Homo sapiens: one gene and its partner. The protein of the gene in region 1 purifies or fractionates together with the protein of each later gene. This does not show direct contact. Each region holds a gene or a part of one and is shown on either strand. Other genes may lie near its edges. The genes, in order: HSD17B2 and ARL6IP5.

Region 1 (3,827 bases):
AAAAATTAACCTCATAGAGGTGAAGCAGCTTTCTCATGAGTGCAGAACTAGTGAGTAGTCTAATATCTTCATTTAGATACTGTATATCTTAAGAGGGAAGCTTAAGATGGATGGGGGGCTCACTGGGGGTAAACAGCCCAGTGCTGACCCCATTTAAGTTCACAGTCAAACCTCCCTGGACCATTTTCATACCAGCTGCAGTTTGCAGTTTAGACACAGCATCCGCTATTCAGAGAGTTGATTTTCTTTTCTTTTTTCTCTCTTTTTTTTTTTTTTTTTTTTTTGGACAGAGTTTTACTCTGTCACCCAAGCTGGAGTGCGGTGGTGTGATCTCAGCTCACTGCAACCTCTGCCTCTCATGTTCAAGCGATTTTCCTGTCTCAGCCTCCTGAGTAGAGTAGCCAGGATTACAGGTGCACACCACCATGCCCTAATAATTTTTGTATTTTTAGTAGAGATTGGGTTTCGCCCTGTTGGCCAGGCTGGTCTCGAACTCCTGACCTCAGGTGATCTGCCCACCCTGGCCTCCCAAAGTGCTGAGATTACAAGCGTGAGCCACCATGCCCAGTCAGAAGTGTTGGTTTTCTGGACCTAGTGTGACAGGGGAACACTTCTTCCCCACTTCCTATGCTGTCTGCAATATGGAGGGATAGCTTTCAGTGTGACGTTCCTGGCCCCTCTGGCTCCTCTACCCTCCTCCCCCCAGGGAGGTGGAGCAAAGTATCTGATTGGTGAGTTTGGCAGAAAGAATTGGACATGAACATTTTGCCTGGTGCAAAGGTCTTTTCTCTCTCTAGCAGGAGAACCAAATGACAACTCGGAGGAAATGATCAGGACTGAGAAGGAGAGGAGAAAATCCAAGAGGCCAGACCCTCACGTGGACCCTATTGTCTCTTCCTTCCAACCTCCCAGCCTATAAACACCTGTGCTAAGCCCAGCTGCCCAGCCCAGGCCCCATCTGTGGGTGAGGCCTGAGACTTTTCGACCTTGCCTTGGCTGAGCACCGTTATTACCACATGCCTAAGACCCGTGCTCCAATGCATCTATCAGGAATAAAGCTGATGTCTTAAGCCCCCTGTCTCATTTCTCCATTGGTTCAGAATTCAGGGGAAATTCTGTTTAGGGACTGACCCCACCAAACAAAGCAACAGCATGTGGTGAAGAACCCTGCATCTGTTCTGATTTAATTTCACCTCATTTAGTTCCAGCTGGGTTTGTGTTGCTCATACCAAGATGGTATGTGATATTAACTCTGAGTCAACAGCTCAGAGGAATGTCAAGAAAGAAACTGGAAATGGTTCAGAGGAGGCTAAATAGAATGATGAACGTTCTGGAAACTAGGCCATGGGAGGAATGGTAAAAGGAATGAGAAGATTTAGTTCAAAGAAGATTTGACTCTGATATGATGCAGTCCACATGTTTCAAGGGCAATCATGCAAAATAATACTTTAATTAGATTATGTGACTTCCAAGAGCAGAGTTAACTTCAAGGGAAGAATAGTTCGCTCATTATAAGGAAGATATTTACAACCATTAGCATTGTATAAAAATGAAATAACTTCCACCAATAGGGGGTCAACTCCCTGTCACTGGGATTATTCAAAACCCCAGTGGATGAAATGGGATGATCCTGAAAATGGTGTTCAGGTGTTGGGAAATGGTTGGGTCTGAAATAAAGTTTATCTATATGATTTTTTTTTTTTTTTTTTTTTTTTTTTTTTGAGACAGAGTTTTGCCTTGTCGCCCAGGCAGACAGTGCAGTGGCGCGATCTCGACTCACTGCAAGCTCCGCTTCCTGGGTTCACGCCATTCTCCTGCCTCAGCCTCCCGAGTAGCTGGGACTACAGGCGCCTGCCACGGCGCCCGGCTGATTTTTTCTATTTTTAGTAGAGGCGGGGTTTCACCGTGTTAGCCAGGATAGTCTCCATCTCCTGACCTCGTGATCCGCCCGCCTCGGCCTCCCAAAGTGCTGGGATTACAGGCATGAGCCACCGCGCCCGGCCATCTATATGATTTTTATAAACCCTAAAGTGGCTGAATGATCTGTTCTTGGCTGCTCACCCCTTTCCCCCCAATATCACAAGTGACCTGAAACAAGGAGGGCAGGCCAGGGGAGACCCCTTGCATGTGGCCAGATCCTGCCTGGGGAGCCCCAGTCCCCACATTGCACTTGCTAATGGGAGGGAACATGGAAGCCTCAAAGCTCTATGTGCTCCACTAGGGAAAAGCTTGGCCCAAGACGAGCTTCTTTCTCCCCTCATCCTTCCTTGAAGGAGTCTGTGATAGCCTGAATAAGAAGACAGAGGCCCTGACAGCAAAGTAACCCACAGAAATGATGTCAAGAGATGCAACTGCATAAGCAAGAGAAAAGTTTCTTCTCTGCCTGCTCCTCTCTGCAGGAACCAGAGCAGAAGTTGGAAGCTAACATTTGGCCACAAGAATGTGTTCTGTTTGATCTATGGGATTGTTTAAAATATAAGAAAGAGACCAGATGCAGTGGCTTACACCTGTAATGCCAGCACTTTGGGAGGCCGAGGCAGGTGGATTAGCTGAGTTCAGGAGTTCGAGACCAGCCTGGCCAACATGGTGAAAGCCCATCTCTACTAAAAATACAAAATTAGCTGAGCATGGTGGTGGGTGCCTATAATCCCAGCTACTTGGGAGGCTGAGGCAGGAGAATTGCTTGAACCCAGGAGGAGGAGGTTGCAGTGAGCCGAGATCGTGCCATTGCACTCCAGCCTGGGTAACAAGACCAAAACTCCTTCTCAAAAAATAATAAATAAAATAAAATAAAATATAATATAAGAAAGAAATCATTGCCAACTTGTTTTAAATGGGAGATTTCACACACAAAGATCCACAATTTTCTATTTCCTCTTAAATACCACAAAAATGGCAAAGTGGCAATAATTGACTGGAAATAGGAAGCAGCTGCCTTCTCTAGTCATGAGGTATGTGCTCCAGTTTGCATGGAACTTACCACCCTCCACCAAGTTTTAGACACTGAGGCCAAGTGCGATAGTTCTGGCTCACGCCTGTCATCCCAGCACTTTGGGAGGCTGGGCGTGGTGGCTCACGCCTGTCATCCTAGCACTGTGGGAGGCTGGGCGTGGTGACTCATGCCTGTAATCCCAGCGCTTTGGGAGGCTGAGGCGGGAAGATCACTTGAGGTCAGGGGTTCAAGCCCAGCCTGGTCAAAATGGCGTAACCCCCTCTCTACTAAAAAATACAAAAATTGGCTAGGCATGGTTGTGGGCCCCTGTAATCCCAGCTACTCGGGAGGCTGAGGCAAGGAGAATTGCTTGAACCTGGAAGGCAGAGATTGCAGTGAACCAAGATCGCACCACTGCACTCCAGCCTGGGTGACAGAGCGAGACTCTGTGCATAAAAAATTAAAAAAAAAAAAAAGAAAAGAAAAGAAAGGGAAAAGGATCACAAGAGGAGATGATAAATTTTTTTTAAAACATGCCAAATTTAAAGTTTCAGGCTAAAATTCTGGAAATATGAGTCAGGAGCTCAGAAGAATGTCAGGTATACAAAACCACGATTTGCCAGTCCTCTCTCAGAGGAGATAATTGATACCACAGGAGCAGGTATGACTTTGCTGCTGGGTAGAGAATGCAGCCATATAAGAAGGTGGAGTAAAGACAGAGTCAGAGATTACCTTGGAGGAAGTGTAGGAAGAACCCGGAAGAGTCAAAGGACAAAGAAGCATGGAAATGCAGTTCCTGCAAGGCTAACGAGGCCATGAAAAGAAAGAAAGTATGGTCGGCAGTGCTGGAGCAGAAGTCAAGCTCTGGTGATTAGAAGGACACCAGTGACACTTA
Region 2 (2,655 bases), on another chromosome or scaffold:
ATCAAGTCATACATAGTTTTTTTTCTGCATTAAAGGAAAATGCTGTATTCAACAGGAAGGACCATTATCTGGAAGCCACACCCTTTCCTTCACACACTGATATCATCACCTTGCAGATGCTACTTAAATGTCCTGAAATTCAGAGTGAATCAACGGGATTCCATCCTACTTAAAAATCAACTTACCCGAGGCTTTCCAGAAAAGAACTCTTGCTCGATTCGGGATTATCTGTATCTTGTTCCCTGCAGGAGCACGTGAGTAAAGTCCACTTTTAAAGTGCCTCCCGGAGGCTTTACCCAAAGTGTTGGGTATAGAATTCTAGATGTAAAAATCTAAGGGCTTTACAGAGTTTCTATAGCCTACCGTTCCCCAAACTTGCTTGATTATTTTACCACAGATTCCCTATCCCCTTTCCTGGACCTCCTCCACCTGAGCCTTAAAGAGACAGGCCTGGGAATCTGTATTTTAAACAGGTAACCCTCTCTCCATATGATCTATACCAGTGGTTTTACAACTTCCATGTACATTCAAATCACCTGGAGAGCCTGTTAAATAGGCAAATTCCTGGTCTCCATCACCCCAAATTCAGACTGTTACAACTGAGGGAAGGCTCCAGAATTCATTATTTTAATAATCACTCCAGATGATTCTGATGTAGGTGGATCTTGGACCCTTATTTTGAAAAACCCTGATGTGGATTCATCTGGAGGATCTCAACCTAGACCACCCGTTAGAAATAGTTGACGAGCTTTCTAAAAACCTAACATCCTTGGGTACCACTGTTGACCCACAAAATAAAGATGTGGCTGGGAAATGTATATTTTTAAAAAGTATCCTGAATGCTTGTCACAATTATCCGTTTGGGAATCACTTATCTAATCTCCTTACTTTAGAGATGAGTGAACTACAGCCCATATAGGATGACTGGTCCAAATCACATGCTGGTTTCCAGCAGGTCTAAGAATAGAAATCAGGACTCTTAACTGTCTACCTCTGATACATTTCGTTACACTGGCCTGTCTCAGGTTCTGATGTGGAAAGGTATTAAAATTAGCAAGCTGTTTGATTAAACAGTATCATTGAAATACTAAGCGTTAAGCACCTACAGAAAACCTGAAGAAAATTCCAAAAATGTGTGAATTTGTTGGCTCAGATATTTTATCCAATAGGGTATGGGATGTATCCATAAATATTCTGGACTTAATCTAACAAAGCCCTAAACAAGCAAATAATTTCATTTAGTGGAATAAGTGCACATGTCAAATGTTATTGAAAGTTAAAGGGATGTGCCTGTCACTTAATATACTAGAATTTTAATCAGATTTCTGCTGATTAGGCTGGGATTTTATTTCTTGTCTATTTCAGGCTTCAAGTGTTTGGAGTCTTAGTAAATAATTCATGTAAAACTTAGAGAATATCTAGATCTCTTCACCAGAATCTGAGTATTTAGTACCTATATTCTGAGCCAATTATTCCTATAGACTTACCAAACTTTTAACACTAGTTATGATCTCCTGAGCAAGTGGAGAATAAATAGTCTACTTCCAAATAATAAATACATTCATTCCTGTGTCAGGACAATAGGAATGGCACTTAAAAATTGAGAATAGACTCTCTTATTAGACAAATCTGGAGTCTAGTGCAGGTTATGCCACATTCCTGCTGTATGACCTGGGATTTGTCTTTGTTCTGTTTACTGTTGTGTCCCCATAAGAATGTATGGCACACAGCTGGGCGAAGTGGCTCACGCCTGTAATCCCAGCACTTGGGGAGTCCAAGGAAGCTAGATCACTCAAGCTTGGGAGTCCGAGATCAGCCTGGGCAACATAGTAAAACCCCGGTCTCTACCCAAAACACAAAAAATTAGCTGGGTGTGCACCTGTGGTCCCAGCTATTCAGGAGGCAGAGGTTGCAGTAAGCCGAGATAACACCACAGCGTGGGTGACAGAGTAGACCCCATCTCAACAACAACAAAAGAATGTATGACACATAGCAGATGCCCCAACAAATATTTGTGGAATTAATGAACTATAAGGCCTTGACCTCATAGTTCTTGACCTCAGTTCTGTGTTATCTGGGTCTAGTTGGATAACAAGTAGAAAGCTGTTTTAGAAAATTCTGACACTTTTGCTGACATGCCAACACATATAAGAAATGGGTTATGGAATTCCCGTTGGATAATTGCTTCTACATTTTTTTGATGATGGAAGAAAAAACTCAAGTTCACTTACACAGCAAAGGAAAAGTAATGCCAAACACAAAGACCATGACTCCTCCAAACATGGAGATAAGGAAATAGCTCGCCAACATGACCACCATAACGAACGTCGTGGGGTAGCGCTTCTTCATCCGGCGAAGGACGTCTTTATTGTGGGCTGCCCACACAAACCCTGTGAACACCAGCACCACCACGATTCCTCCCAGGATCATGTTGAAGGGACTCAGAAACCTGAAATATGAGGAAGAAAAAATGAGGGGTGACTAGTTCAGCAATAGAAGTAGCAAAAGGAGAAAGAGGAGTAAAAACAATTATTGAGAACTTACTAATACTTTAATACTTTATCTAAATTGTCTCATTTGATTTCTCATAACCTTATAAAGGAGATACTATTAGTTCATTTCTCAAATGAAGAAGCTAAGGCACAGAGGTTAGAA

What was found.
Region 2: the proteins of HSD17B2 (region 1) and ARL6IP5 purify together in Homo sapiens (affinity purification with mass spectrometry; one large-scale study listed by BioGRID and IntAct). This does not show direct contact.

What each region holds. Positions count from the first base shown.
Region 1 is NC_000016.10:82,041,579-82,045,405, reverse strand, and holds part of HSD17B2 (17-beta-hydroxysteroid dehydrogenase type 2), read right to left. Parts: intron 1,071-3,827; exon of another isoform or gene 1-1,070. UniProt on the Homo sapiens protein: Catalyzes the NAD-dependent oxidation of the highly active 17beta-hydroxysteroids, such as estradiol (E2), testosterone (T), and dihydrotestosterone (DHT), to their less active forms and thus regulates the biological potency of these steroids.
Region 2 is NC_000003.12:69,101,633-69,104,287, reverse strand, and holds part of ARL6IP5 (PRA1 family protein 3), read right to left. Parts: intron 2,450-2,655; coding exon 2,232-2,449; intron 1-2,231. UniProt on the Homo sapiens protein: Regulates intracellular concentrations of taurine and glutamate. Negatively modulates SLC1A1/EAAC1 glutamate transport activity by decreasing its affinity for glutamate in a PKC activity-dependent manner.